4 linked regions of the Homo sapiens genome follow. The protein of the gene in region 2 interacts with the protein of the main gene of each other region in a pairwise test. Each region holds a gene or a part of one and is shown on either strand. Other genes may lie near its edges. The genes, in order: NFKBID, ANXA11, KRTAP13-2 and TFG.

What was found.
Region 1: the proteins of ANXA11 (region 2) and NFKBID interact in binary tests that used the Homo sapiens proteins (3 or more experiments, as listed by UniProt).
Region 3: the proteins of ANXA11 (region 2) and KRTAP13-2 interact in binary tests that used the Homo sapiens proteins (3 or more experiments, as listed by UniProt).
Region 4: the proteins of ANXA11 (region 2) and TFG interact in binary tests that used the Homo sapiens proteins (3 or more experiments, as listed by UniProt).

Annotation. Positions count from the first base shown.
Region 1 is NC_000019.10:35,887,452-35,892,540, forward strand, and holds the end of NFKBID (NF-kappa-B inhibitor delta), read right to left. Parts: intron 3,040-5,089; coding exon 2,923-3,039; intron 2,604-2,922; coding exon 2,439-2,603; intron 1,162-2,438; coding exon 1,108-1,161; 3' UTR 501-1,107; downstream 1-500. UniProt on the Homo sapiens protein: Regulates the expression of IL-2, IL-6, and other cytokines through regulation on NF-kappa-B activity. Functions in the regulation of inflammatory responses.
Region 2 is NC_000010.11:80,201,621-80,210,765, forward strand, and holds the start of ANXA11 (annexin A11), read right to left. Parts: upstream 3,918-9,145; 5' UTR 3,723-3,917; intron 2,872-3,722; exon of another isoform or gene 2,619-2,871; intron 1-2,618. UniProt on the Homo sapiens protein: Binds specifically to calcyclin in a calcium-dependent manner. Required for midbody formation and completion of the terminal phase of cytokinesis.
Region 3 is NC_000021.9:30,370,232-30,377,812, forward strand, and holds KRTAP13-2 (keratin-associated protein 13-2), read right to left. Parts: upstream 2,041-7,581; 5' UTR 1,983-2,040; coding exon 1,455-1,982; 3' UTR 1,159-1,454; downstream 1-1,158. UniProt on the Homo sapiens protein: In the hair cortex, hair keratin intermediate filaments are embedded in an interfilamentous matrix, consisting of hair keratin-associated proteins (KRTAP), which are essential for the formation of a rigid and resistant hair shaft through their extensive disulfide bond cross-linking with abundant cysteine residues of hair keratins.
Region 4 is NC_000003.12:100,732,047-100,741,046, reverse strand, and holds part of TFG (protein TFG), read right to left. Parts: intron 8,540-9,000; coding exon 8,375-8,539; intron 4,472-8,374; coding exon 4,331-4,471; intron 1-4,330. UniProt on the Homo sapiens protein: Plays a role in the normal dynamic function of the endoplasmic reticulum (ER) and its associated microtubules. Required for secretory cargo traffic from the endoplasmic reticulum to the Golgi apparatus.

The sequences.
Region 1 (5,089 bases), on a different chromosome or scaffold from region 2:
GCCTCCTAAAGGCCAGTCCCTCTTGTGTCGCCAGGGTGAGGGTGACAGGATATGGACTTGGCACCCATGGTGGCTGCTACATCCTCCCCCCTCAGGCACATTCATCCCAATATGACCCCTCAGCGGGCATCACAGCCACTCCCCTGCACCAGTGCCCCCAGAGATCAGACAACAGTGGTTCTAGTCCAAATTGAGTTTAAATTTTTTTTTTTTTTTTTTTTTGAGACAGAGTCTCTCTTTGTCACCTAGGCTGGAGTGCAGTGGCACAATCTCGGCTCACTGCAACCTCCGCCTCCTGGGTTCAATCAATTCTTCTGCCTCAGCCTCCCAAGTAGCTGGGACTACAGGCGCATGCCACCATGTCCAGCCAATTGTTTTTGTATTTTTAGTGGAGACAGGGTTTCACCATGTTGGCCAGGCTGGTCTCAAACTCCTCACCTCAAGTGATCCGCCCGCCTCGGCCTCCCAGAGTGTTAGGATTACAGGCATGAGCCACCAAATCTGGCCCAAATTGAGTTTAATAAAGAGCTTGAGTGATGCTCAGATTAGGGAGGGAGTGACCGGGAATGCTGGGGTCTGGAACTGGGGGCCCAGCTGAGCTCTGAATCAGAGAGCAGTGAGACCTAAGGGTCCCTGATCTCAGAGGGTCCCTCCTGTCTCAGGGTGAGGACCTGAAGGGTGTGGGTCCCGGGGAGGGTGAGGAGGCCATTGTAGGAGATTTACTGAGATGGTATCGGGATGCCCCAAGCACCACGTAGGGGGATTACATCTGGGTTTCTGGGAACGAAGAGCTGAGTTAGGGGAGAGAACCCGAAAGATCTCAGTGGGGAAAGGACTAGGGGTGCAGGGTGTTTCACAGAAACAATCAAGGGGCCTCGATTTCACAGAAATCATCAAGAGGGCTCCTTGTGGGTAGAAGAGGGGTATCACAGCACCCCAAATATTGGGGCCTGTTCACCCCTCTGCAGCCATTCTGGGGTTTTAATGTAAAACCCCAATGGCAGGATATTCCACATACATTATCATGGGTTTGCAACATTAGCATACGCTGGCTGTCCCGCAGGACGGTGGGGACTGGAAAATCAGTCCAGGGTCTGGGTTTGAGTCCTAAGAGGACAGGCCTGGCGGCGCCACACGGCTCCTCTTCAACAGCTGCCGGAGCTGTAGACAAGGCAAAGGAGGGAGAGAAGTCTGTCAGGTTGGAAGGAGAGGTGGGGAAGGCACGCCATGCAGAGGGAGGGGCTAGAGAAGAGAGGTTGAGTGGGTCCCTTTGGATTTGAAGATCAGAGGTCCAGAGTCAAGATTTTGGAAGAGCCAGGTGCAGTGGCTCACGCCTGTAATCCCAGCACTTTGTGGGGCTAAGGTGGGCAAATCACCTGAGGTCAGGAGTTCAAGACCAGCCCAGCCAACATGGCGAAACCCCGCCTCTACCAGAGATACAAAAATTAGCCGGGCATGGTGGCACGTGTGCCTTTAGTCCCAGCTTGGGAGGCTGAGGTGGGAGAATCACTTGAACCTGGGAGGTGGAGCTTGCGGTGAGCTAAAATTGCACCACTGCACTCCAGCCTGGGTGACAAAGCAAGACTCCGCCTCCAAAAAAAAAAAAAAGATTTGGGAAGGAGGCCGGGAGTGATGGTTCCTGTGATCCCAACACTTTGGGAGGCCAAGGCGGGAGGATCAATTGAGGCCAGGAGTTTGAGATCAACCTGGACAACATAGTGTGACCCCATCTCTTAAAAAAAAAAAAAAACAAAATTAGCTGGGTGTGGTGGTGACTGCCTGTAGTACCAGCTACTGGAGAGGCTGAGGTGGGAGGATCCCTTGAGCCCAGGAGCTCGAGGCTGCAGTGAGCTATGATCATGCCACTGCACTCCAGCCTAGGCAACAGAGCAAGACGCTGCCTCAAAATAAATAAATAAACAAACAAACAAATAAAAATAAAGATGTGGGAAGAAGGTCAAGGCCTGGGTTCGTACACTGAGAAAGGGTCAGGAAGCAGAACTTCAGTGAAGGGAAAGGGGCTGCTGGCTGGGGGTTCCCACCTGGGGGTGAGGAATGAGAGGGAATTGAAGGGAACAGGTAAGAGGTCAAAGGTCACATCTGAGGTCAGGACCCAAGGTTAGGGGCAGGGGGTAGGAGGTCACACTTGGGGGGATCAAAGGTCACACCTTGAGGTCAAGCAAGATTCAGGGTTGGAAGTACAGGTCACACTGTGAGGTCAGGGTTGGGGTAGAGATCAGAGAAGTCACCATTCTGGGGTAAAGGATGAAACACTGAGGTCAGAGGTCACATTATAGAGTCAGGGTTGCCTGAGGGCTGAAGTCACCTTCCGAGATTAGAAGTCATTCTCTGAAAGCGAGCATTGGGTGGGGCAGGGAGGTCATCCCGCGCCCGCGAGCTCAGAGGCCACTCTACAGGCAGGCTCAGTGCTTACTTACCCCCTCAGGGCCCGGCCCGGGCCGCAGCAGGTGAACGGGCTGCTCATTCTCCAGGTTGCGCAGTGTGGGGTCCGCCCCAGCTGCCAACAGGTGCCGCACGATGGCCTCCTGGGCCGGCCCAGGGGGCAGGGCAGCCGCCATGTGGAGGGCTGTGTTCCCGTGGGCCTGGAAAAGTAAGGGGAGGGCTGGTGGGGATCTGGGCTCAGCTGGCCCAGGCCTCTAAACTGCACTTCAATTTCTGCCTTGTCTACGTCCTACACTTGTCCTTTCACATCCCAGACCTCCCCCGGCCACAGCCACGCTGCATGCATCCCTGTGTCCACGGACTACATGTTCTGGGGCAATCTGTGTCTGCTTCCTATACTTTCCCCTGCAGATCCCACACATCGTCCCCTCCACGTCCACAGCCCCCAGGACCCCTAACATCCCACTGCCCCCCCTACCGTACCCCACACAATCTGCACTTCCCAGCCCCAGCTCCCACCTTCATGTTGACAAAGGTCCGCAGGTCTCCCCGGGGCAGCTCCAGCAGCAGCTGAACCAGAGTGGGGTTGGCAGCCTGCACGGCCAAGTGCAGAACTGTCTTGTTGCTCTTGATCTCCTGAGGGGAAGGGAATGGCAGAGGTCAGGGCCAGCCTCACACCTAGGTGCCCTCCCACAGAATCCAGGAGTCTTTAAAGACCCTGACCCTTGGCGGAGTGCGGTGGTTCACGCCTGTAATCCTAGCACTTTGGGAAGCTGAAGAAGGAGGATCACTTGAGGCCAGGAGCTGCAGACCAGCCTGGACAACACAGCAAGACCTCATCTCTACAAAAAATAGAAAAATTAGCCAGGCGTGGTGGTGCGCACCTGTAGTCCCAGCTGCTTGGGAGGCTGAGGCAGGAGGTTCATTTGAGCCTAGGAGTTCACGGCTGCAGTGGGCCATGACCACACCACTGCACTCCAGCATGGGTGACAGAGTGACACTCTATCTCAAAATTAATAAATAAATAAATAAGATGCTGGCCCTCTTCTGCGAGCCCCACCAAGAGTGCCTTATTCAGTTGTATGTCTTGTGCACCGCACAACACCACGTCTCAGGGTGTACCATTCACACCATACACCTTCCAGAACTGTACATTTCTCATGACAATTTTCCCACCAGTGTCTGAGAAAGAGACTCCTTTTCCAGTTCTTCAAAGCAACTGCCTTGGCTACCTGCCCTCCATTCAACACATTAAATTGCATCCCGACCCACACAGACTGTACTTTATCTACAAGCACAGGAGTTGGCAGCATTAATCAGTGGACTAGCTAATATTGCAATACTGCACCACAATATTGAGCTGTTCCCATCATATTTGGGGGAAAATAAAAGACATTTTCTAAAATGAAACCTTTTTATGTGTCTTTAAGGAGTTTGTAACGATAATGAATGTTAAACATTTTATGTGCTGATAACAGGGCAAAACCACCTAGTTTGCTCGTCCAAAAAATGATGAAGACAAAACCAAAGCTCTAGATTAAGAGTGATTTGAAAAGACGTAACATCATAATATGTGTGCTTATTTGGATCTTGATTTTTTTTAATGAAAAAAATTATCATTTTACAGCCAAAAGGAAATTTGAATACAGCCAGGATATTTGGTATTACAAGAAAATCTTTAATTTTTTAAAGACAGAGCAATGATACTGAGGTTTAAAAAGTTCTTTTTTTTCGAAGGGCACAGGGGCTCATGCCTGTAATCCCAGCACTTTGGGAGGCCAAGGAGGGCGGATCACTTGAGGTCAAGAGTTCGAGACCAGCCTGGCCAACATGGTGAAACCGTCTCTACTAAAAATACAAAAATTAGCCAGGCGTGGTGGCACATGCCTATAATCCCAGCTACTTGGGAGGCTGAGACACAGGAATAGCTTGAACCCGGGAGGCAGAGGTTGCAGTGAGCCAAAATCACACCATTGCAATCCAGCCTGGGCAACAGAGTGAGACTCCGTCTCAAAAAAAAAAAGCTATGTTTTTTGTTTGTTTTTTGAGACAGGGTCTCGCTCTGTTGCCCAGGCTGGAGTGCAGTGGTGTGACCAAGGCTCACTGTAGCCTCAACCTACTGGGCTCGAGTGATCCTCCCACCTTAGCCTCCCCAAGCACTGGGATTACAGGGAAAGAGTTCTTATCTTTTATTATTGTTGTTGTTGTTGTTGAGAGACAGGGTCTTGCTCTGTCACCCAGGCTGGAGTGTGGTGGCAAAATCATGGCTCACTGCAGCCTTGACCTCCCCAGGTTCAGGTGATCCTCCCACCTCAGCCTCCTGAGTACCTGGGACCACAGGCATGTGCCATCAAGCCCAGCTAATTTTTGTATTTTTTTTAGAGATGGGGTCTCCCTATGTTGCCCAGGTTGGTCTCGAATTCCTGAGCTCGAGCAGTCCGCCCACCTGAGCCTCCCAAAGTGCTTGGATTACAGGCATGAGCCACCGCACCCAGCCATCTTTCTTATTTTTAAAAAACTTATTATTATTACTAAAAATACAAAAATTAGTGGGGTGTGATAGCACATGCCTATAGTCCCAGCTACTCGGGAGGCTGAGGCAGGAGAATCACTTGAACCTGGGAGGTTGCAGTGAACCAAGACTGTGCCACTGCACTCCAACCTGGGCGACAGAGCGAGACTCCAT
Region 2 (9,145 bases):
AGCACACCACGCAGGGCGAGGCCAACAGTGGGTTCTCAGTAATAAGCAGTTCTACAGGAACATGCCTTGTCACCTACTTCCTAAAAATAGCCGTGACCTTTTTAGTGGACACAGCAAGCTCACATCTGTTATCACCACTCCTTCCCCACTGTCACACGCACCCTTTCCCCCAGTGGTGCCACTCCCCAGGCTGGATATGCCATATGCTCCCTAGCCTCCCTGTGAGCAGCCTCCACATTTCTCTTCTCTGCCCTCACTCAGATTTCCCCCATCTCATGTCCTCCAAGTCAGCCATCCCCAAGTGTGAGGGGCAGGGGACACCTGACTTCCTTCTCAATTTCCTTTCCTTCTTTTCTGCTAAGGCGGAGCCTAAGCCCCTGGAAAGCTAGAGATCCCAGAACCAGGCTTTGACCACCGCACACTCCACCCTCTGCTTCACAGCTCCTGGCAGTCACACACCCACGGTATCAACATTGTCATCACCACCCGCTAACTGATCTCAAACCCCTTTGCAAACATCTTCTCATCTGATTCTCCATTCCAGGCAGGCATTTTATCATCCAGAACTGTTCTGTGGGGGGGAAGCGGGGGGTCTCTGTGTGGCTGGGTGGCTTGTCCTAGGATACCTAGCACAGAGAACTCTGTCCCCCAATTTCTTAGTTGCCCCCACCCATTCCTTCCTCACATCAGCATGGGCAAGGCCAGCTGTGGTTTGGGTCACTGTTCAGGCTGTACTTTTAGGATCCTCCCAAATAGCAAACAACTATGTGACTATCAGGTCTTTATTTCATGGGTTATAGGAGATAGGGTCAGTAAGCCTAATGTGTAACAGTTTCAGTGGTTATTACAGAGTTCCATTGAATTGCAACAACTCCCTTTAAAAGCACAAACTCCCACCAAGAAAATCTCAGTTTCTTCATTAATCCTAAGAGCTTTCCTATCTAGGTATCACTCAAAATTCCTACTATTCTGGGGGCAATGGGATCAGAGGGTGTTGCAGAGAAAAATCCAGAGAAAGTGAAAAGTCTACTTCCTTGGCAGTGCTGGTGAAGCATACCCTTACACAGACGCTTCCCCATGGGAACAAGTGCCAGGAACTGCTTCAGGCTTACGGGGGAAAACAGTGGCTAAGAAGAGAGAGGAGGCCGGGCACGGTGACTCATGCCTGTAATCCCAGCACTTTGGGAGACTGAGGCAGGCAGATCACCTGAGGTCAGGAGTTCAAGACCAGCCTGGCCAACATGGTGAAGCCCCGTCTCTACTAAAAATACAAAAATTAGCCGGGCATGGTGGTGCATGCCTGTAATCCCAGCTACTCGGGAGGCCAAGGGAGGAGAATCATTTAAACCCAGGGAGCGGAGGTTGCAGTGAGCCAAGATTGCATCACTGCACTCCAGCCTGGGTGACAGGGCGAAATCTGTCTCAAAAAAAAAAAAAAAAAAAAAGACAGCAGAAGAAGAGGGGTGAATCCAGGAGGAAGGAGGGGGTGCACCAGAAAGGTCCCAGGACCTCTGATGTTCCAGCATTCAGCATGCATTTTGGTTCCACATTCAGCTCCTGCCCACACCAGTTTCTTTTCTCTATTCTACAATTTCCAAGAAGAACCCACACTAACCTATTCTGTCTCAACTCCCACTCCTGTCATCCCAAGCCACACATCACCTCCCCAATCACGTGAACTAGGCATCACTAATCGATCCTGGCCTTCTAGACACATCCACCCAGGGTGGGCCCTTTCTATAGTATCATGCATAAAGGCGTCAGGTGAGGCTTCCACTCCCACCTCTTAGTCCCAATTCATCTCCATCTCACCCTCCCCACGTTTCTCTATCCAAACCCAGCCTTCAAGGTCCTATATTTTAACCACAGGGAAACCACTTCCCTGTGCTGTCTCTGTTGTTCAACTAACGACAACTAATTTTCTGAGCACCTACATTAGGCAAGGCCCATCCTGAGTGCTGCCACCAAGAGGTAAGTCAGAAACAGCCCCCACCCTCCAGAGTCAGAGGACAGGGCAGCGATAAGCCACACCGCCACACAAATACTATGCAAGGCGAGAGATGAGAACCGAGTCAGTGCCAGAAGGGCTGAGTGAGCTCAGAGCATATCCCGTCCCTCCTGCTGGGAGCAGGCACCCGGATGGCTCCCAGGAGGGTGGAGAATGCTAGGCCAGACAGGGGAGGGAGGGCATTCCAGTAAGACAGAGAGCATGAGCTTAGCATGAGCTAAGCCAGAAAGACGGTTCAGGAGAAGTGCATTTCAACTTTAGCTGAACCTTCCACTGCTACTATTTATTGACCCTTACACCTGATTATTTATGACCCAGGCCTGCCTCACACACTTTATGGCTAATGTGGGTGACACCCATCTGGGATACACAAGTGTGGTGCAGCAGTCACCACCTGTTCTGACTGGTCCGTACCTGAGCTCTGTATTGTTATTAAATAAATGAATGCACTGAATCTCACAAGCCTGTGAGGCAGGGATTACTATTACCCCCATTTTACAGATGAAAAACCAAAGCACAGACAATAGTCAAAGAAAAGATAGCAAGGTATGCAGGAGCCTGAAGTAGTGGGCACCCAATGCCAGGGCAACAAACTGCCCTGGCACCTCACCTGGCCTCTCTTATCAGGGAACACCTTGCAGCACAAAGAATGCCTTGAGGAAAGGGGCCCTGTTAATCCCCTGGAATCCCCAACAATTGACTGCCGCATAAAAGGAATGAGGAAAGCAATGAGAGCCAGTGAAGGGTGAGCATACCAGGCCCTGCCCTGCAAACCTAGTCCCTGTTGCGTGGGCAGGGCAGGGCAGGGCAGGGCAGGGGCTCGGCCTCACAGCTCCACTCCATGCCCAGCGCAGAGAACAGAGGGGAGAGCTACCACAAACGCCGAATCTCTACAGAGAGGTCAAGGATTGGAGGGCAGAGACAGAAATGCCCCGGGCTGACTGTTTCCAGCTTGGGCTAGCACTGGCTGGCTTAACTTTTCCCCTCCAAAGTCTCTAGGTAACAAACTTCGCGTGTCTCCTTTAAACCAACAGACCATTTTACCTAAGTCTTAAGGGCCTGGCCTGCACCCATGGGAGATACAAGTCCAGGAATCCCTTCCTGAAACTGGGGATCAAGGTTGGGGAAGGGGCGAAGGCACGCACAGCACCTGGGATGGCTCCCGCATTCCCTCAAACACTGGGGAGAGTTCCTTACAAATAAACTGCAATGGTAGCAGCTCCCAGGAATGTGCGTGCTCCCAGTTTCGGAGGAAAGTTCCTGAAGATAGCCTTCTCTGCTTAATCTCCCCAAGCCTCGCCTAGAAGGGCGCGCGCACCCTGGAGGGCTCCGCAGGGCTGCGGGGCCGGGCCTCCGGCACCCCTCCCGCCACCCGTTGCCTCCTGCGCCCAGGGTCACGGCCCCTGGCCCTACCCAGGCCCAGACTGAGACCCCGACCCCTGAGCCCGGGGGGACGGCGAGTGCACCCCGACCACACATGAGGGAGCAGCCCCAGACGCCGAGGCTGATCTAGGGGGCTGCCAGGCCGACACGGCCCGCCCGCGACCCGCCGACGCCCTCCCCTGCCCCCCACCCCCACGCCTGTAGTGCAACCAGGAAGCCGCAGGGCCGCGCTGGGCTGGGCGCCAGGCAGCCCCGGGCCTCACCCGCGGCGCCGCGGTGCACTGCCGCCGCCTGGTCCCAGGCCCCCAGCCGGCTCGGGACCCTCACTCACCTGGCCACGGGGACTCCGGACGCGAGGGGCGAAATGGGACGTGGGCGGGAGTGGCTCTCTCCGCGGGCGTCCCGGGCGCGGCGCCTGGGTTCTGCCTAGGGGCTGGGTCCCACTCCCGCTCGCGGGGCCCGCGGGGCACTCGGGGCACTGGGGAGCCGCGGGCGCAGCAGCCGTCAGCGCCGGGCGGAAAACTCCGCGGGCGCGGCTGCCCCAGGTGCCAGAGGCAGTGCAAGGGAGGGGCGGGGCCTGAGCGCGGCCCCGCCCCCAAGATGAGGACTGGGCACGGCGGGCCCGCGAGGAGCAGCAGCCTTCCGGCTGCGGAGCTGCTCCAGGAAGTCTCGGGCTCCGGAGGTCCCTCTGCCGCCCCTAACCCCTGCGGCGCCCAGTGCCGCGCAGAGCCGCATTCGCCCTCCTGCAGGGGTGGGCATTTCCTAAGTCCTCTCCAGCCCCGTGTGCGTCGGTTAGTGACTCTCTTTAAGGTCGAGAAAACTTTTTACACTGAAAAGGTCAAACGCATTTCCTTTATAGCAACACTCGGTGGTGGTGGAGGGGGGAAGGTCACGCACAGTATGTGAGGAAGGGAGCGGTCAGTGACTATCGTGGAGAAACCTGACAAACCACCCAGCCGTCAAGGTGACCTCGACAGGGGTAAATCATACTGATTGCATGCACCGCTTGTGGTCTTCCTCCCAAGAACACCTAACCCCACTGTAATCATGAGGAAAACATCACAAATCAATTGAGGCCCTTGCCATATACATGACCAGTACTCCTGAAAACTAGCAAGGTCATCAAAAACAAGGAAAGTCTAGGACACTGTCACAGCCAAGAGGAACCCACGGAGATATAAAAATGACTTAAGATGTTAATAATAGGAAAAGCCCGGGTTTATGAGAATTCCCTGTATTCACACTTTTTCTGTAAATCTAAAGATGTTCTAAAAATAAAGCATATTTTTAAAAGGTCACCCAGGTAATATATGCATATATGGTAGGTATACAATTTTTTTTTTTAATGAGTGGTGGCTGACGCCTGTAATCTCAGCACTTTGGAAGGCCAAGACAGGAGGATGGCTTGAAGACAGGGCTTCCAGACTAGCCTGGGCAACATAGTGAGACCCAGTCTCTAAAAAACTAAAAATAAAAAATTCAAAAAATGAGTAAAAATTGAGATTCACTCTTCCCTCCACTCCCCCAGCCCACTCTTAGGTGTGTCCTTCCAAATATCTCTCTTTAACACTGTGTGTGTGTGTTTACATAAACGTATTGTTTACAAAACGATATTGCAGTACTTTTCTGCAACATGTTTTTTTACTCACTATATCTTGGAGGGTCTTTCCATACAAGTGCTCCTGAACAGACCTGGTTCTTCCCATCCACTGCACACTGCGCGCCATCGTGCGCTTCACCATTCTTCATTACCTAGCTCCTTACTGAAGGACATTTAGGTTGTTGCCTATGTTTGGCTGTTACAAACAAGCTGCTGGTTCGATTTTCCTTTTTTTTTTTTTTTTTCTGAGACGGAGTCTCGATCTGTCGCCCAGGCTGGAGTGCAGTGGCGCGATCTCGGCTCACTGCAACTTCCGCCTCCCGGGTTCAAGCGATTCTCCTGCCTCGGCCTCCTGAGTTGCTGGATCTACAGATGCCCACCACCACGCCCGGCTAATTTTCATTTTTAGTAGAGACGGGGTTTCACTATGTTGGCCAAGCTGTTCTCGAACTCCTAGGCTCAAATGATCCGCCCGCCTCGGCCTCCCAAAGTGCTGGGATTACAGGCGTGAGCCACCGCGCCCGGCCCGATTTGCGTTTTAAAGTCGCTCTGAACAATAAAATCCGGAAGGACTGGAGGGGAGGCTCCGACCTTCTCCCTGTCTGGGCAGGTGTGCTGGTGCCGGGCAGGAACGGTGCCTTGGGACAGCCTGGCCCCGGCCTCACAACGGGCCCCGGGCGCTCAGTCATATTCCGTGGCCGCTCCAACACCCCCTACCCCCACCAGCAGGCGCGGCTCTCTTTCGGGGCTGGACTGCATTTTTTGGACATGAGTCGGCGAGTGAGGGTGAAACTCAGGCCAAAGTCTCCAGAGCCGCTCGGAGAAAACGCTGCCTGGAACAGAAGAGCAGAGGATCAGAGGCACCACCAGAGACTCTCAGAGTGGGTTATTACCCTGGTGGGGGCGCCTGCTGCGGCGTAGGAGATGGCGGGACTGGGGGCGCGGGTGTGAAGCCCCCAAGAAATCTGTGTGAATTTCCTGGGGAGGTAAGGTCTCCAGGCGCTCTCTCTGGGCCCGGGGATTGGTCCGGGAAGGTCTCCTGGCGCCTACCCAGCCCCCACTGCCTGGACGCCTGCGCCTGCTCTGCCGCCCCACAGCGACCGCGAAGGCCAGCTTCTTCGAAAGGCCCATTTTTCTCCGTGGCTGAGCGAATGCTCCTAGAATACCACGTTTATAATAAATCATGTAGGGTGGAATTCCTGCTGGATGTATACACCTTTCTGCATCAGAGCTCTTCAAACCCAGAATGGTGAATAGCTACCCCTGGGCTTACCCTTTTATAATTTTCAACAAACCTGCGTTTAGCCCCGGCTAGGTGCCAGCAAGTTGCTAGGGACTGAGGAGGCTCTGCAGAGGACCCGAGCTGAGGCCCTAATCCTCAAGGCCAATGGCAGGGGTCACCGCCCAGGCACCCCCAGAGAACGCGGTGTGAAGGAAAAGACACCAAACTCGGTGTTCAAATGTGTGGGATCTATTCTAGTTCTGATTCTGACACTTGCAAGTCATGCATCCTCCGAGCCTCGGCTTTCTCACCTATAAAATCTTCAACGTGACCTATAAAAATCCATAAAATCACCCCTGCTTCATTGTTTCCCAGGGCTCATAGAAACATCATACAAGGTAAGGGAAGGTGAGTGCACTGTAAAAAATGGTGACGTGCTATATAGCTCTGAGTAGTATGGTATATAAGCTTCCTTTTTAAAAATTTTAATTTTAGGGCCAGTGTTGGGATTACGGGTGTGAGTTACCGCACCCGGCCTCTTTTGTTGTTTTCTAATAAGTATATATGACTATCATTTCCCTCAAAAGTCTGCTTTAGCTGAATATCACAAGTTTTAATATGCTATGCTTTTGTTATCACTTAGTTATACATATTTGGATTTTGTTGTTGTTGTTGTTACAGAGTCTCGCTCTGTCGTCCAGGCTGGACTGCAGTGGCAAGATCTCAGCTCACTGCAACCTCCACTTCCCGGGTTCAAGAGATTTTCCTGCCTCAACCTCCTGAGTAGCTGGGATTACAGGTGCACGCCACCACACCCGGCTAATTTTTTAATTTTTAGTAGAGATGGGGTTTTACCATTTTGGCCAGGCTGGTCTCCAACTCCTGACCTCAAGTGATCCACCGGCCTCAGCCTCCCAAAGTGTCGGGATTACAGGCGTCAGCCACTGTGCCTGGCCAATATTTTGTTTTTTATGTTAGGATTGTATGCTTAATTCATGGATTATTTAGACGTATATTTTCCATTCTTTTTTTGTTTTCAAACTTCAGTTTTTTAAAAAATAATAATAATCATTTGGGGAGGGGCCCAGTGGCTCAGGCATGTAATCCCAGCACTCTGGGAGGCCAAGGTGGGAAGATCGCTTGAGATCAGGAGTTTAAGACCAGCCTGGGCAACACAGTGAGAGCCCCTCTACAAAAAAAAATTTAAATAAAAATAAATCAATCATTTTGTCATTGATCTCTAACTTTAATGCTTGGAGATGAGGAAATGTGTTCTTTTAGAATTTGTTAATGCCTCCTTTGTGGCCTCATATACAGACTTTTTTTGGCTGTCCCAATTTTTGTGAACGTCTCTTCACTTTTTATGTGGTTTTTTTTTCTCTATATCTCTCCATCTAGCTTGCTAATCAGGTTATTTAGATCTTTTATCTCCTGGGTTTTTTTTTTTTTTCTCTCCTGTTCAATCCATTGATTTCTGAAAGAGTAGGTTTAACATTTCCCACTTTTATTGTAGTTTGTCAATTTCTCCCTCTAATTTAGTCTGATTTTGCTTTATACTATTTTTTTTGGTTTTTTGATTTTTGTTTAAGAGGCAGTGTCTCACCATGTTTCCCAGGCTGGAGTACAGTAGCTATTCACAGGTGTGATTATAACTGCAGCCTCAAACTCCTGACCTCAAGCCATCCTCCTGCCTCAGCCTCCTAGGTGGCTGGCATTACAGCCATGTACCACCTCACCCGGCCAGCCTTATAATTTTGAGAGCAAATTATTAGGCTTATACAAATTAATATTGTTTTATCCTTTTATGACTTATTCAGTTTTATTACTTTTTGTATAAATATTGTTATCCTGAGATAGCATTTGTCTAGTATATGTTTTATTTCTCCTTTTTTACTCTTTCTGTATTGTTACTTAGGTTTATCTCTTGGAAATGACATATTGTTTTTTACAAGATTTAAAAAGTTCATCTGAGTTTCTATTTCTAATTTGTGAGTTTAACCAGTTCACATTGATAAGAATAACAGAAATATTTGGGTTTATTTCTGCCATCATTTGTGTTATACATATACCCTTGAAATGGATATTCATCTAGAACACATTGATAAAATCCTATAAATTATTACAAACTGGAATTCTTCCATGCTGCTTGGTAAATAGCTGCTCACCTGAGACCCCACAGTGCCCCCACTCCTGACCTTCTTCTGATCTGGCAAAAAAGGGTCAATGCTTCTCACAGGGAGACCCTCTAGGACCTTTTCTAAGATTCTAATTAGTCAGCAAACAGGCTACACCAGTGGCTTAATATTTCAAATATCATGTACAATATGCTTTCTTGTTGTTTCTTTTTTCTCTTTCCCTGCATTCGTTTGGATTGTTTGAATTTTCTTTAATAGGAGGGAGGTACAAGAATTACAGATGTATCAATAAATACCAGCCTACTAGTACCTTTACCAGAATATCCCTCAAAAGCTCAAATTTATCATGTCAAGAAATGAACTTTTTCTCTCTAAACCTGCTTTTTCTCCTGGGTTCTGTCCCCCGCTGGGGTACCACAGTCTGACAAGCCATTCCAGCTAGAGATCTGATAGCAGCTGGATTTCTGTCTGCCAGAATCATTTTTCAAATGCTGTCAATAGAGACGGATTCACCAGGAAACTGCAAGGCCCCTTGCTTGCATGGGCTCTTTACAAGGTCCTGGTGGGAAAGGCTTTAACAATGTTTGACATGGTAATATGTTTTTACAGACTTTGCAAAAGTAAGCGATTTTAAGTGCAAATGCAGTCATGCGTTGCTTAATGACAGGGATGTGTTCTGAGAAATGCATCCTTATGTGACTTTGTTGTTGTGCAAATGTCATCAGGTGTACTTACACAGAACTAGATGGTAGAGCCTACTATATGCCTAGGCTGCCTGGTATAGCCTATCGCTTCTA
Region 3 (7,581 bases), on a different chromosome or scaffold from region 2:
TTCTATGATCAGAGGATGTGGTTCCCACACTTCCATGCTTAGCCCGTATTGTCTCCATTATAAGAGAAAAGATACCCTCTTTTTTCAGGTTTAATTATAAAAAGCTTAAGGGAAAGGTGTCAGGGAAAAAAATCAATTAAAGCTCGTGACATATTATTGGAGGAAATGATAATCTTTCAAAGTTGTTTTCCCATTCATGGAGAGTTGTTATTGAATATTTTATGAAAAAGTTTTAGCTGAACTTTTACACTACCTTTAGCCTCTGAAAGAAATCACTTGCTTAAATTAAAATAAATAGAGAAGGTCTTATATCTCAGATGTGAATAGCATCCTACAAATATTTATTTTTATTCACACTGTCACAGCTGAGCAGTGGATTCCAAGGATACTGAGGGAGGTTATAAAATCTAGAACATTGAAAGTAATCTAATTTTAACTGCCACTCAATGCAGAAATCACTGAAAAGTAATATCTTTTTCCTTGTTGATAAACTCAATAATCCAAAGAAAACACAAAGGTCATAATAGTTCTATAAATTTATGATTTATAAATATACATTTAAAACAAGCCAAAGTATTTCTCCCTATAACTGTTTCCATTACTCACAGTTGTAAACCTTAAGTCTTTCTGTCTTCTGTGCTCTCTCTCTCTTTCTCACACACACACAACACAAACACACACACACACTGAATAATTAATTTTCTCCTATATTTAAACACAACCGTAATGTCCTCCAGTACCTAACATTTCATATTTTCCCTTTTCCATCATAACATTTCAGATTTATTCAAATATTTCATAATTTTATATTTAATCACCTAGTTGACATCTTCTGAGAAAACTCTAAATACTCTTTTAAAAATGTAAACAAAAAGCAAATATGATTGTCAGCAAAATGTGTCTTCCTTGAAAACACACCACCATTATGAGTGTACTCTCAATAATTCTGTTAAGAATCCAACCAGTTTTCATGGCAGAAGACATGCACTTGCTCAGTCTTTTAGGCACTGGCATGCCCGGAGAATCTCCCCACACACTAGGCCTGATGACATTACCGATGGAAATGGATGTCCAAGGAAAAGACGTCTGGGGGCCTGGAGCCCCCAAAACAGATCACAAATCAAACTTTGGAAACCAATAAAAGACAAAGAGAACATATTGGAATCAACAGTAAATGAATTTATTACGTGAAACAAAACTGAACTTCCATATACTTTATAAGATGAACTTACGTGATAACGAATCACTTGTTTCAAAATTATAGACATTTGACTCTATATTTTGCTCATTCATTAATTTCACAGTCTGAAAGAACTAGCCTGTCCAGCCAGTACTTGATGCCAGAGAAAGGATGAAGAGCTAGTAGTAAGAGGGGTTAGCTCACATTGCTGGAAATGCCTATGATAACAGCTCTACGTAGAGACTGAGACACTTTGCTTAAAAGGTCTGGAAATTCAGCAAGTTGATCTGCAGAAGGTTGATCCATAGGCTGGTCTGTAACAAGGAGACTGGCAGCTCCTAGAAGCCAAGTAGGTTGGGCGGCAGAATCCAGATCCATAGCCGAGGGAAGGGAAGCCACAGCTTCCATAACCCAGGGATCTGACACCACTGGACCCACAGCCCACTGAGTAGCAGCTCCTCGATCCATAGCCCAGGGAGCGGCAGCTGCTGGATCCAAAGCCTAGAGACCCAGAGTAAGTCGTCTTGCAAGGACTGCAGAGCAAGGAGGTTCTGGGGCGGTAGCAGGAGGTCTGGCAGGGGCTGGACTCCACATAGGACGTCTGGCAGCTGGTGGGCTCCCAGCAGATCTCCTGACAGCCCCTATAGAGAGAGGAACCCAGCTGGCAGGTGCTGGGAGAGCAGAGGTCAGTGCTGTAGACCAGATTGCTGGGGTAGGAAAAGCCACGTGAGGATGCTGGGTAGCGCAGGTAGTCACCACAGGAGCGGGAGGAGAAGTTTCCAGAGCAGCAGTTGTAGGACATGTTGACGGGAGATGTGAGTTCAGCTGAGTTATAGTGGAAAGATTCTCTGAGTTTGAATGTCATAGTCTGGACTCCAAGTTATATATGCTCTTAGACCTGGGTGTGTCCACTGTCTCGACACTCCCTTCTCCTTGCTCACTTTTTATTATAAGAATGCTTCCCTAGGTTATTGTTTAATTTATCACATCTTCATATACTTACTTGTACTTTAGTCACTCTGGAACACTTAGAAGGAAGCCACTCAGTTTTTTTTTTTCCTGGAATTCACTGTGGTTTGACCTTCAATGTTATATGTCATCACATTTATGAGTATCTTGCCTCTTATTATTTGAGTACAGTGAGTCCTTATTGTACCAAATGGAATTACACAAAATTCTTTCTTTACTTCCCTTAAGTTATCAGGAGCATCAGTGGTTACTACTCAAAATAGATTGTCCTTCTTTTTAACACAAGCATATTATTTGTTACCAGAAACGGAGGATTTCTCCAAATACTAACTGTATTCAGTAGCCTCAGCAATCTGTCAGTTAAACCTTTTACTAGTACCTTAAGAGCTCAGGATCAGAACTGAGGAGTGCAGCATTATGTTGGGTGTCCATATCAGGCATCTTCCTTAACAAGAGGCTACTTTAGACAATGCTCACTTAGGAAACAATAAACACAAACTTTTTAGTAAGACTTTAAATTGAAGTTTTTCAGATATTTTCTGATGAACCTATCTTGTAGCAAGCACTATTCTATGGTTATGCTCTAAATCAACTCATAAATTTTATTTTGTTTTATGTTTCAATTTTTTTTTCTGGATAAAAGGACAGATTCTTAGCTGCAATTATTAATTTATACTTAAACTTTGAGGAATTGTTAACATTTTTCTGAAGCTTTTAACTTGAAGTATTAGAGTTATATGGGTCTTTAAACATCCCCTGTTCAACCCATACATGGAAAAATTACCTCTCAGAGAGCTTTAACTTTCCCCTAATTTCTCAGTAAGATAGAAGCAAAATTGAAGCTTTAATTATGGTTTTCTTATTCAGAGTCAAGTTGCAAATACCTTGCAAATATAAAAGTAAATTCAACTTTAACTTGTCTCAGAAAAGAAACTATTAAGCTTATTTATACTAAGATATAAAAGCCTAACAAAGCCTTATTTACTTTTCCTAACAATATTCACACTGAATAGTGTTCAACTGGGGAATTCTATGCCTTACTGATCTTCATACATTTGAAGTATATTTCACTTCCTAGCCCAAGAAAGAGAAAGAATATTGGTAATCCATGTTTAGATTAATGGGGGGAAGAGGCTTCTTATCTGTGTCTATTCTTCTTCTTTTGAATTTGACATTTTATTTGGTTTAACTAAGGGAAATGGCATTCACAATGGTTATCGAAAAGAGAGCCTCTTAACTACCTGAAAATTAACTTCCTTCATTCCAAAGCACACTGTTTCAGAGCACTTAGTTACTTTGTTTTATGATTATCTCTCCCATGCAGAATCCAAAGTGTGGCATGCATCACATGAAGTGCCCTTGTGCAATACTTAAACCATCACTCTGATTCACTGAAGTAAAATAAGCTGTGCTTTATGAATGGACACCTATTAAATTCACCAAAAAGTATGCACCACCCCCAACACATGGGATTCCTTATAATGGCAGCTTTTAACACCTTTAAAATGAGAAATATTTTTCTTTTCTTACTACAGGTTGATTCTGCTCAAAAAAAAGAAAACAAAAAACTTACTAATATCCAAAAGTTCTTGCCTTTCTAGACCAGCTCCCTATGTCTGGGAATAAACACTAAAATAACTTGGGAGTAAGTCAGTTCCAATTAACAGTCCCTCCACCCATTCCTAATTGGGTTAACACTTTTTATTAGGAGTTATTTGTGCACTTTGTACAAATGCTAATGAACAACTCCCAAATGCTAATAAATGTGTCCATCTGAAAGGCAGAAAAAGCAGAACAAAACTAGAGTAGCCTTAACAGTTCAAAAGTGGATTCTGGAACTAATAAAATACTCTACGTACTCTACATACACAGGCAAAGTATTAGTATAGAAAGAAAAATTCACTATCTTGATATGTCAGGGAAAACGTGATATTGAAATCTTTTCTCTCTCTCTCCTTCCTTCCTTCCCTCCCTCCCTCTTTCTTTTTCTTTTTCTTTCTTTTCTTTCTCTGCCTCTCTTTCCTTTTCTTTTTCTTTCTTTTCTTTCCCTCCCTCCCTCTCTCTCTGCCTCCTTCCCTCCCTTTCTCCCTCTCTCTCTTTCTCTGTTTCTCTTTCTTTCTATTTCTTTCTTTCTTTTCTCTTTCTTTCTTTCTTCTTTCTCTTTTCTCTTTAGAAATTTAGGCATAACAACACTACAGAGAATAAAACTATCATTACAGTACACAGTAGCCACAAGTAGCCTATGATCTGAATTACTTGAAAAGTGATTGTTTTTCCAAGTTAACATAGTAATGTAGCAGAAGCTTTAAACTGACAATCTTCTATTGCAATGTTTCCAGAGATTCTTCAAAAGCTTTCAAATTAACCAAATATTAGGCAGTAGTAGAAATAGTAAAAATCCATATATACTGCCCTATACCTTTTTTACTTTCTTTTTTTTTTTTTTTTTTCCGAGACGGAGTCTGGCTCTGTCACCCAGGCTGGAGTACAGTGGTGCAATCTTGGCTCACTGCAAGCTCTGCCTCCCGGGTTCACACCATTCTCTTGCCTCAGCCTCCCGAGTAGCTGGGACTACAGGTGCCCGCCACCACGCCTGGCTAATTTTTTGTATTTTTAGTAGAGACGGGGTTTCCCCATGTTAGCCAGGATGGTCTTGATCTCCTGACCTCATGATCCACCCGCCTCGGCCTCCCAAAGTGCTGGGATTACAGGCGTGAGCCACCGCGTCCGGCCACCTTTTTACTTTCTGTTCACTTTTTAATTTTCTGCCTTCTCTAGACCTAGGAGAGGCTTTTATTGTCTGGTCACTAAAGAGTCTTCATAACAGCTGCTTTACACTAGATTTTATTTTTAAAATTCTCACCCAAGGGGAAATGTATCTATTAAACATTAATGCTAACTATGAAGAACCCACTACTGAGTAAAGGCTTGATGAGAACTCCCTGGACTAACCTGTTCATGGTCTCTTCCCAGTCCCCCATGCAAGCCTACCCAGGCCTGTGGCTTTCTCGGAGGTCATCCGGCCTCATTGTTTGAGACTTTTCCAGGCCCTGGCACCTCCTCTAACTTCACTACAGCTCTTCCTGCTTCAAATTCATCCATTTTATGTCTTCATCATCCATGACTTTCGTTTGAAATAAAAAGGCCAGGCTGGGCGCAGTGGCTCACGCCTGTAATCCCAGCACTTTGGGAGGCCGAGGCAGGTGGATCACGAGGTCAGGAGTTTGAGACCAGCCTTTCAAACATGGCGAAATCCCGTCTCTACTAAAAATACAAAAATTAGCCAGGCGTGGTGGCAGACATCTGTAATCCCAGCTACTGGAGAGGCTGAGGCAGGAGAATCGCTTGAAACTGGAAGGCAGAGGTTGCAGTGAGCCAAGGTCATGCCACTGCACTCCAGCCTGGGCGACAGAGTGAGATTCCGTCTCAAACAAACAAACAAACAAAAAGATTTATAAACAGCCTGCTTACACACCTCTCGGTTCTTCTTATCTCTTCTGAGACCTTACCCTTGCATTTACTGAAAACAAATAGAAAATTAAAGTAAATTCTAGAGTCATTTTCTGGATGCCTAAACTCACAATTGTTACCACGTTGTCAGATTTGCGTTCATCTTTCTCTTTTTTATTTTAAATGTTTATGGATACATAATGTTGCGCATATTAATGGGGTACATGTGATATTTTGATACAGGCACACGATGTGTAATGATCAAATCTGGGTAACTGGCATATCCATCACCTTAAACATTTATCATTTTTTTTGTGTTGAGAACATTCCAAATCTACTTTTCTAGTTATTTTGAAATATGCAATACATTATTGTTAACCACAGTTGCTGTACTGTGTTACTGAACACTAGATCTTATTCCTCCTATCTAACTATATTTTTGCACCCATTAACCAACACCTCTCTGTCCTTTCTTTCCACTACCCTTGCAAGCCTATGGTAACCACCATTCTATTCGCTATCTTACAGAGAGAGACCCCTTGTGGGCCAGTCTCTCAGTCTGATTCTTTTTCATATCTTTCCAAAGGCATCACAATAATGCATTCGTTTTTGCATAGCATTCCAGGAAATTGTCTATACATATATTTATCGGTTTATACCATTTATTGTTGTTTTAAGTTACAAAAATGCCATCTTATTGGATACATATATGTATCTGTAGCTTTCTTTTTATATTAAATTTATTTAAATAAAAATATCTAAAACATATCCAAGTTGATATTTATATATTTGTGCATTTATTATCACTACAGTAGAACTTTTAAATGTCAGGCACTGTTCTCAGCACTGTATTACAAATATTAACTCAATCCTCATAATAATTCTACATGGTACACACCACTTTTATTCTTGTTTTATAGCTGAGGAAGCTGAGACACAAACAGATTGAGTTACTTGCCAAAGCTACCCATGTAGTTAGTAGCAGAGATGAGATTTGAACTGCAATACTGACACCATTGTCAGACTTTATGCAAATAACCATGTTGCTATGATACACACATCTAGTTTATTCCTTGTTACAAATTTATAGAATTCTACTGTATAAAAATATTTTATTGATATATCGCTCTACCATTCTTGATTTTTTACTATCACAAACCATGTGGCAAGAAATATACTTCTATATAGGCCCTTGCATCTACTGTCTAGGGCTTCTGGAACATGTATATTTAGATGCAATTGCTGGACATACATAATTTCAATTCTAGCATGGTAGTTACGATCAAGGCTTTTGGATTCAGGCTGGCAGAGTTTGAATCCCAGCTCCATCACTTAGCTGTGTAACTCAGACCTGTTTTAGTTTCTCATATTTTGTTATCTTTTAGCCATTATTCTATGGAGTCATTTGTTCTTTTAAATGTATTTTTAGAGAATTTGTGCATTCTTTTTGTATGCCTTTGTCTTTCATATGTTGCTAATATATTCCTCTGGTCAGTTGTTTGACTCTTTTGTAAAGTCAGATCTGTGGATACACAGTTCCCATAAAATGAAATGCACCATTTTTAGGAGTACAGTTCAATGGGTTTTTTCCTTTCTGTTCTTTTTTTGGTGGAGGGGGCAAGGGCTTGCTCTGTTGCCCAGGCTGGAGTGCAGTAGTGTGATCATAGCTCACTGTAGCCTCCAACTGCTGAGCTCAAGTCATTCTCCTGCCTCAGCCTCCTGAGTGGTTAGGACTATAAGTGCATACCACAACCCCTAGCTATTTTTTTTTCTTTTTTTTTTGTAGAGGCAGATTCTCACTGTGTTGTCCAGTTTAGTCTTGAATTCCTGGCCTCATGCAATCTTCCTGCCTTGGCTTCCCAGTTCAATGAGTTTTGACAAACATATATAGTTATGTAATCATCAATTGATTGAGATAGAGTATTTCCATTATTTCTAGAAATTCTCCTGTGCTCCTTTGGATCAATCTGCTTCCCCAATAT
Region 4 (9,000 bases), on a different chromosome or scaffold from region 2:
TTTTATATGACTGGCAGTAAGTCTGTTTACACCAGAATCACCACAAACACGTAAGTAATGCCTTGTGCTACATTATGATGGCTACACATCACTAGGCAATAGAAATTTTTCACCTCCATTATAATCTTATGAGACCACCATCATATATGCAGTCCACTGTTGACTGAAATGTTATACAGTGCATGACTATATATAAGCTATGTTTTATGTATATTTTCAAAAAGAATCAATGACAGAATAAAGTAAAAAGTAATAAAAAAAATTAAGGGGAAAAGAGAACAGGATGAAGCAAAGAGTAATGGTAAGACTTCTGGGAATTATTTATTACACAGAGTAGCCAACCTCTATCATGACCCTCAACGGCTTCTGCACATGTATAGCATTTATGACAATGGGTTGGTATCGTTTATATTCTTAGAAATTAGAAAGATTTAACTCCACAATACAAAAATGACCAAATAAGCAACAAGCACATGAGTATCTGCTCCCTGTTAGTCCCTCACATACTGAATAGGGCTGACCTGTATACCAAGAAAATATTGCAGAAATGACAGTGACATTTCTGAGGACAGGCTATAAAAGGTTATCTTCTACCTCACTCTCTTCTGATTACTCATTCTGGTGAAGCTGTCATGTCATGAGGTCACCCAAGCAGCCCCATGGAGAAGTCCAAATGGTAAAGAACTGAATCCTCCAGCTCTGGTTAAGCTTCAGATGACTATAACCCCAGCAGCCATTTTTAACTGCAACCTCATGAGAGATGCTGAGCCAAAATCACCCAGCTAAACCATTCCGGGATATCTGTCTAAAACTGTATGAGATAATTAACTTTTGTTGTCTAAGTATCTATGTTTTGGGATAATAGTTACACAGTAATAAATAATACACATAGTTTTGATTTTAGAAACATGTAAGGGATTTTAGAAACATGTAAGTTTTTTCTAATGGCTATTAGAAAAAACGACTCAAGACACATTAACAATGCAAAGTGTGAACCTTGTTAGGCCCCTCATTTGAACAAGTCAATTTAACAAACGAATCTTGAAACAATTAGGGAAATTCAAACACAGACTAGCACACGTTGACATTAAGAATCACTGTTGAGGTTGCAGGTGAGCTGTAATCAAGCCAGTACACTCCAACCTGGGCAACAGAGTGACACCCTGTCACAATTAAAAATAAAAAGAATCACTGTTAAGTAACAGCATGGTGGTTATATTAAAAAGAAGATTATCAGTTGGACATATATACTGAAATACCTGAGTATAATAAGCTGTTCATAATTTGATTTAAACTACTCCAGCAAATTAAAAGGGGTGCAGTGGGGAAAAAATGATGAAAAAAGAATGCCAAAATATTGGTAAGTGTTGAAGCCACATGACTACATGAAGAGTTGATTATTCTATGTATGTTTCAATATTTACATAATAAAGGCTACTCAGCTTTTCATTATATTGGCATATGATTTTAAAGATTTTAATTATATGCTTTTTCATTTTTTTAGGCTGTCAAACAGCAATATCTCCCGATCTCTGATGATTTTTAGCGTTCTTCTCCTTACCAGTTACATTTCTGGCAACATCACATAGTCTTCCTGTAACAGGCACTGGCTTTATATGAAAAAGAGTAACATTATCCCTTTTGGTTTTTTTTTAATGATGCTCAATATCTTGTTGATCCTTTTAACTGAAAAACATATTAAGACTACATTTATTTGGAATAAAATTCACAGTTCCAAAGTCCCTTTTATGGGAGTTAAGTAACAACTCAGAATTCTTAATTTTAGTATGGACTATTAACACATTGTAAGAGATTGCTATGTTAACAAATTATAAGTAATACATTTTATGTTGGTAATTCTGCTCAAATTATAACCAGTAGTTGATCTAAATAACTGACAATGTCAAAGACTCATTATACAACAAAAAGTAAAAGTAGCCTATAATTCATGCTGGGAATCTATAAATAACGACTATATTTATCTAAAGCTGTGCTCTTAAAATAATCACTAGCTACATGTGGCTATTGAGCACCTGAAATGTGGCTTGTTTGAAATGTGATATGTTGTTTGTTGTTTGAAGTGTTCCAAATCAGTGTCAAATCCCAGACTTCCAATACACAGTACCAAAAAAATTAACTTTTTAATAGTGAGTACACGTTGGATACATTAGGCTAAATAAAATTAATTTTACCTTTTCTTAAACATTTTTCTAATGCTGCTAAATAGAAAAACTACATGTGGCTTCTATCGTAATTCTTTTGGACAGCACTGATCTAGAATTAGATCAGTTATTAATAGTTTAAATGATGTCACATATTAATTGTACAATTTTCATACTGTATGTTTTAATGTAAGCTAACAGTTAATTGCAGCAAGGCATACAATACTACTCTAAAAATTAAATGCATATAAACAGTGTTAATCTGCTACCTCTGAAAAAAGGAATTTGGTTGCTGTGGACAGAGGTGGGAGAGAGAATTTTCACTGTATGTCCTTTCGCATTTTTAAAATTTTACTTATTTGAAAATGCTCAATTAAACACTTCATAGAATGTTTAGATATTGCTAGTAGCGCCTTAATTCCCATTTATTTATACATAAACAGCAAACATTATTTGGTACAATGATCCTTCCAACTGTCATTGTATCACAGTATACACTGCTTAAAATGGGATTTATTTAAAAACAAATCTTTAGTTCGCTTGATGTAGGCATTAAACTCTCATCATACCTATACTCTGCTTTTGTCCATTTCAGCTGACATCTGCTTTAGTTCTAGTTTGTTCTAGTTTTGGCAGTAGCATTTTGGTGCAGAGGAGGAGTTAATTAAAGTTGGTTGAGAAAAGGCTTAAGCAATAAGAAATTCTTCGCAAACCACTGATTCATCAGCAAAATGTCACCTGCTAGTCCATAATGACTGGTGTTCATCCAACAGACAACTCTGTGGATTTTTTTTTTTTTGGCTTTGTTTGTTTTTGAGACAGGGTCTCGTTCTGTTGCCCAGGCTGGAGTGCAGTGGAGTGATACAGCTCACTGCAGCCTAGACCACCCACTTCAATTCAACAATGCAAACAATCCTCCCACTTCAGCTTCCCAAGTAGCTGGAACTATAGGCACATGCCATAGCACCTGGCTAATTTTTTTAAATCTTTTTTTATTTTGTAGGGACAGGGTCTCACTATGTCACCCAGCCTAGTCTCAAACTCCTGGGCTCAAGTGATCCTCCTGGCTCGGCCTCCCAAAGTGCTGGGATTATAGGCGTGAGGCACCACACCTAGCCAGGTAACTCTGAAAGTATCACCACAGGATGATAGGATTCTATTCCAAAAGTGGTCAGTTCATTTTAGCCTATGTTTTGTTTTTGTTTTAATGTAATTGATAACCTTAATCACTTGCTTCTGGGGCTGGAAATACATTATACCACTATCTGACCCGTTAAACAAATAGTTAGAGCACCACCTGGTGTTTGTTTTGAAGTGGAATGCGGCTTTAAAGGTCCCAACACACATAGACAATACAAAAATCACACTTCATTATCTGGAAGGCACCCTAGAGATTAGTTAAGTACTTAGTCACATTCTGCAGAACTCCAAGGTTTTCAATGAGGCACCTTAGTGCCTGCTGTGTGAAGTCTGTTGCCCTTCAATCCCCTATTTTAAATATGGAGCTTTCAGGTTATATTTCATTCAGAACTAAAGACATTCTTTTGAAACCACTGGGTTCAGTCCAGTTTTCACATTTTACAGTGAAAGAATATCAAAACCCAGAGAGACTAAACTGCATATCCAAGGACAGATTATTTCAGAAGAAAAAGTCTGACTTAAAATACACTGCTTTTTTTCCATTAAAGACATATTGCTAAATTTACAAAATTATAAAAGGCTACTAATCTTAACAAAAAAAACCCACTACAACTAAAGTTATCCTTTACCTCTATTCAGAAATCTTTTTTAAATTAGAAAAATCATGCACAGATGTTGAAGAAAGGAGGGAGATAAAATAGCATCTATAACACAAAATAAAGTGTGAAATCACCAGTCTGAACTTCACTATCCTCCCCTCCAAGGGTCACCACTGACTAATGACTGGTCTTTCACTCTGTATCTATATTCATAGAAACACTTTTTTGAGGTATTTTTTTCATTCCAATAATTGGAAACATACCTGACATATTGTTCTATTTGGTTTTTTAACATCAAATCATGTCAGTAAATCAAAATTTTTCCTGTGTTTAAGGCATGACTAAATACATGAAGTGTTTACAACAATGCTGTAATAAACACTTCTACACATGTACTTTCCCAAACATGTGTTCTAAACTCTATTTTACCTTCAATCTGACCTGCTTGAGTCTGAGCTCCTGTATATGGTGGCTGCTGTGGCTGAACGCCTGGTGGGTGAGCTGCTGAGGAGGAGGAAGCAATGCTGTCGGGTGTTCCTGAACGATCTTCTGCAGGAGCACTGGGTGGCCCTGGATAGTCAAAAAAAAGTCAGTTTAGTATCCAACACAAGGCCTTCCCCCAGCAAGCTCAAGGAATAAGTTTGGTTAAAAGATACTAAAAGTACTATAGAATAAGTATATAACCACAAATACGCCTTTTTACATTAAATGTATGTACTTTATTTTTTCCTTTGCTCCAATCTCTTAATCCAAAGCTACAACTGGAACTCCTTCCTTATAAAGTGTAGAGTACTATATTCCTGAGTCTTAACCTCTCCCTGCAAAAATCAAAACTCATGTCTGCAATGCCAATATCCCCCTACTCCAAGCAATGTATTCTGCACAGGAACCAAAATTGTCACTTCATTCTTCAAGGGGTCTTCACTGACCATAAATTAAGTTCAACCTCCTAGTTTGGCATTAAGGGTCCAAACATTATTTCTCACAATTTCTCTTCTCACATGCCTCCCTTTCAGCTAAACTAACCTTCTCCCTACTCCCATAACATAGCTAATATTTTTTTGACCTCTATTTCTCTCCCACTAGATCCCATATATTTAAATATAACATTCACATATTTAAATATAACATTATTTAAAATCCAATTATAATTCCACACTTCTAGTAAGCCTTCTTGACTCATGAATACTTTTTCTACTAGTGAACTTCTATCTAGTTTACTTTTGTTAACTCATACTGACTTCTACTTTGCATTTCTGAATAGCTCTCACTTTCCCTCTTAAAGACTCTGCACTCTTTTGGCCGGGCTCCTGACTGTTGATTCTTTTTGTCTGCCGAACAAGGCCTAGCACTCTAACTTACATATGGAGCCACTATAATTCTTACAAAATAATGAACACAGAAATGAATGGAGAGAATATATTACAGTTCCAATGCTGTGACAGTCAAAAAAGATATTCTGAGGACAATGTAAATATGTCTTATTCCTTTAAATTCTTTCTGCTTTGGCAATGCAGAAGAGTGGTTAAAAGCATAGGTTTTGGAGCTAGACTACCCAGGTTCAAATCCTAGTGCTGTCACTCACTAGCTGTGTAACTCTGGACATGTTACATAATCTCTTTCTGTGCCTCAGTTTCCTCATCTGTACAAAGGATATACTAATTCCTACTTGATAAGGTTATTGTGAGGATTATGAGTTTACAAGAGCTTATAGCATGGGCTTATAAAAGGAATTATACAGCAAAAGCTTATAAAAGTGACTACTACTCAGAAAGTTCCATATAAGTACTTGCTATTATCAGCAGACTAATTTCTCTAAGGGCAAACCTCTATCTTCTGCTCTGATGTATCCCCAGAACTTACCACAGTATTAGGCACAGTTGACAGCTGACAGTCCAAGTATTAATAAGAACCTAAACTAGGATATAATAGTGGTAATGCAAGAGAGACTGATGATTGCCAAAATAAAATGGATGATGGTTTCTATCTACCACCATTTTACTTAAATTTATATCTATGTAGATAAATACACACATTCTTCCCACAAAAGACACTGTTATTAGCCTAAATATATATATTTATTACTTTGGCTCCTCTTTCCTCCCTTATATGTAATTTATTACAGTTAATATTCATTCCATGTTTGTAATATTTTATCCCTCCTTCCCACTGCCACATTCATTATTCTAATAAGCCACATTTTTACCACATCACACCTGAAGAACTACAAAAGTATCCTAGCTATGCATACAGTTTTTCCTACTATAATTCAACATACAAAGCTGTGAGAAAAATGGTCTTCAAATAATGTGAATCATATTAATATTATTCTAGTCTGGAATATACTACATTTAAATCAAAATTTAAAAGTCTGACCTCATCAAATTTTCACACAATTCTCTTTTGTGAGTAATTCCATGAAAGTCTCTAAGAAATACAAAATGGACTGTACACATTTCCAACTACTGATAAAGGCAAAGTAAATCCATCAGATAAACTCTCTCCCAGGTAACAACTAAAAACATGAACAAAACAAAAGAAACTATTTGAAATAACTGAAAGTCAATCAGAAACCAGAGGAGTTTACCCCAATAAAATTAGAATGGATAAGAATTAAAAGCGCTGACCTCTGCAGCTCCAATGGCAGAAAACCACAGTGTTAACAACCTTATGGCTAGACAAGCAGCTGAAGATTTAGGAGGAAAATCCCGGAAGTGAAGGTGCTACTGAAAGGGTAAGACCCACGATCTAGGTATATACACTCTGTCCAAATCCCCAGCTGACTATAGGGCTGGGAGAGCAGACGAGGATATCTCAAGAAGGCTCAGAGAAAAATGCAGCACCTAGAGCAAGCTGAAAGGACTGAGCATACATATCAGCTGCTATACACCATAGGGAGAAAGAAGGAGCAGTTTTGAGTATGTGAAAGTTATCAAAACCAAAATGAAGTCATTAATGTTAAAAAAAAATTAAAAACTCTGATAAGGCCATGAAGAGAGGATTCTTGCAAAAACTATCACAAAAGAGTTCAAAAACCACAAGCCTACACAAAGGCCATCACAACTTTGCAAAAAAAAAAGCAAAAAAAAAAACTTCTGTGACTGTGAGGACATCTGCCCAGAAACTGCCTGTCCAACCTCAGACTGGCATCACTCTTGCTAATGATCTTTGTAGCCAACAATAATTATTTCAAAACAATTATATATTCTCCTCATTTTTTCCTTTAAAAACCTTTGTCTGCCTTTACCTCACTGAATATGCACATAGTTTACTATGGCATGCATATTTTCAATGCAATGCTCTATTCCCAAATACCTTTTTCTTTTAGAGAGCGCTTTTCTGTTTGTTATTTATGTTAAGTCCATACAAATCAACTCCCTGCTAGATCAACAATAACAGAAAATCCTCAAAAGAATATAAGTCCAAGTCACTACAACATATTAACCAGAATGTCTAGTTTTCAACCAAACACTATCAGACAGGCAAAGAAACAGAAAAATGTGACCCTACTGGAGTTGGGGGGAGTGTGTGTGGGGGAGAGGAACCCAGTCAATAGAAACTGACTCCAAATGGGTCCAAGTGTTACATATTGCAGATAAACATTTTAAAGCAGCTAAATATTTTTAAAGAATCAAACATAAATACATTCAAACAATTAAAGGAAAATATAGACTTAATGAATGTAAAATAAAGAATCTCAACAGAAAAACAGAAACTATAAAAACCCAATGGAAATTCTAGAGCTGAAAGCACAATTAAACAATTCACTAGAAAGGTTCCACAGCATATTAGAAATCACAGCGACCTTGAAGAGTTCAACAGAAATCACCCAACCTGAAGAACAGAGAGAAGACTGAAGAAAAATGAACCTTAATGACCCATGAGACAGTATCAAGCTCTCCAATGTATGTGTTATTAGAATCCGAAAAGAGAAAAAGCAGGAAAAAATAATGAAGAAATTATAACCAAAAGTTAAACAGAATAAAACAATATAGGTACTGCTTTAAGGTTAAAAACTTATTTATATAAAAACCCACTGTATACTCAAGCAATTTAACAAGAAAATCTACATTTAATTTTCAATTTCTCTAAGATGAGGAGATAAGACAAATCAAATATAATTCGAATACTGCAACTAATCAAATTATAAAATAGTTCAGATTTTTAAAAACTTTCTAAATTTTACTTTCAAAAATTTACTTGAACCCAACAGTGCTTATTCTTTAAGGGGGAGGGTGCTACTCTTGGGGAGAGGACATAAGAAAGCTTTCTGAAGTGCTGGAAATCATCTACATCTTAATCTAGTTAGTCTTTTACATAAGTGTACACATATGTAAAAATTTGTTAAGCAGAACCCTTAAGATTTGTGCACTTCACCATATCCAAGTTATTCTTCAATTAAAGAAAGAAGGAAAGGGAAGAACGGAAAGATGAAGGAAACGAAGGGTGTAAAGGAGTTGGAAACCAACTTACCTGAAACCTGATCATCTGTTAAGCCAAACGCTGACATAACATTTTTATTGATTTCATCTTGGTTTTTTAAAGGATCAAAAGCAGACATACTTGCTGCCATAACCTGAGTAGACTGTTTTCCAGAAGAATCAGAAGCAGACTTTTCTTCCCTACCATCCACAGTATCTGTAAAAATAGAGGAATAAACAAAAACTTGTTTCCTTTTTATCTATATTCAGTAAGGCCTAAAAGTACAAGGGAAATAATGCAGGTGTATAATGATAGTCTGGAATGTTAAGCATGTCGGAATATAGGATTACAGATCATTTTAATTCCTTTATTTTTTTTATATTTTTCCTTCTAGTAACAGGGAGAAGAGGGCAAAAAGAAACAGAAGATGAACAAAAGCTTTCCAAAAAAATTATTTACCTCCTTTTGTAAGAAACATTAGATGAAAAAAATACAAGCTCCTTGATAAAGAGAAACATTTTACTTTTTTTGGTTTTTTTGGAGCCCAATAACCTATATCCTAGTATCAGATACCCACTGGGCACTCTGGAAATAATAATTATAGGAACTAAGGCTTTATTTTATAAAAAGAAACTGAACTAAGGTTATAATCTCAAATTTTACATTTTATTTCTACT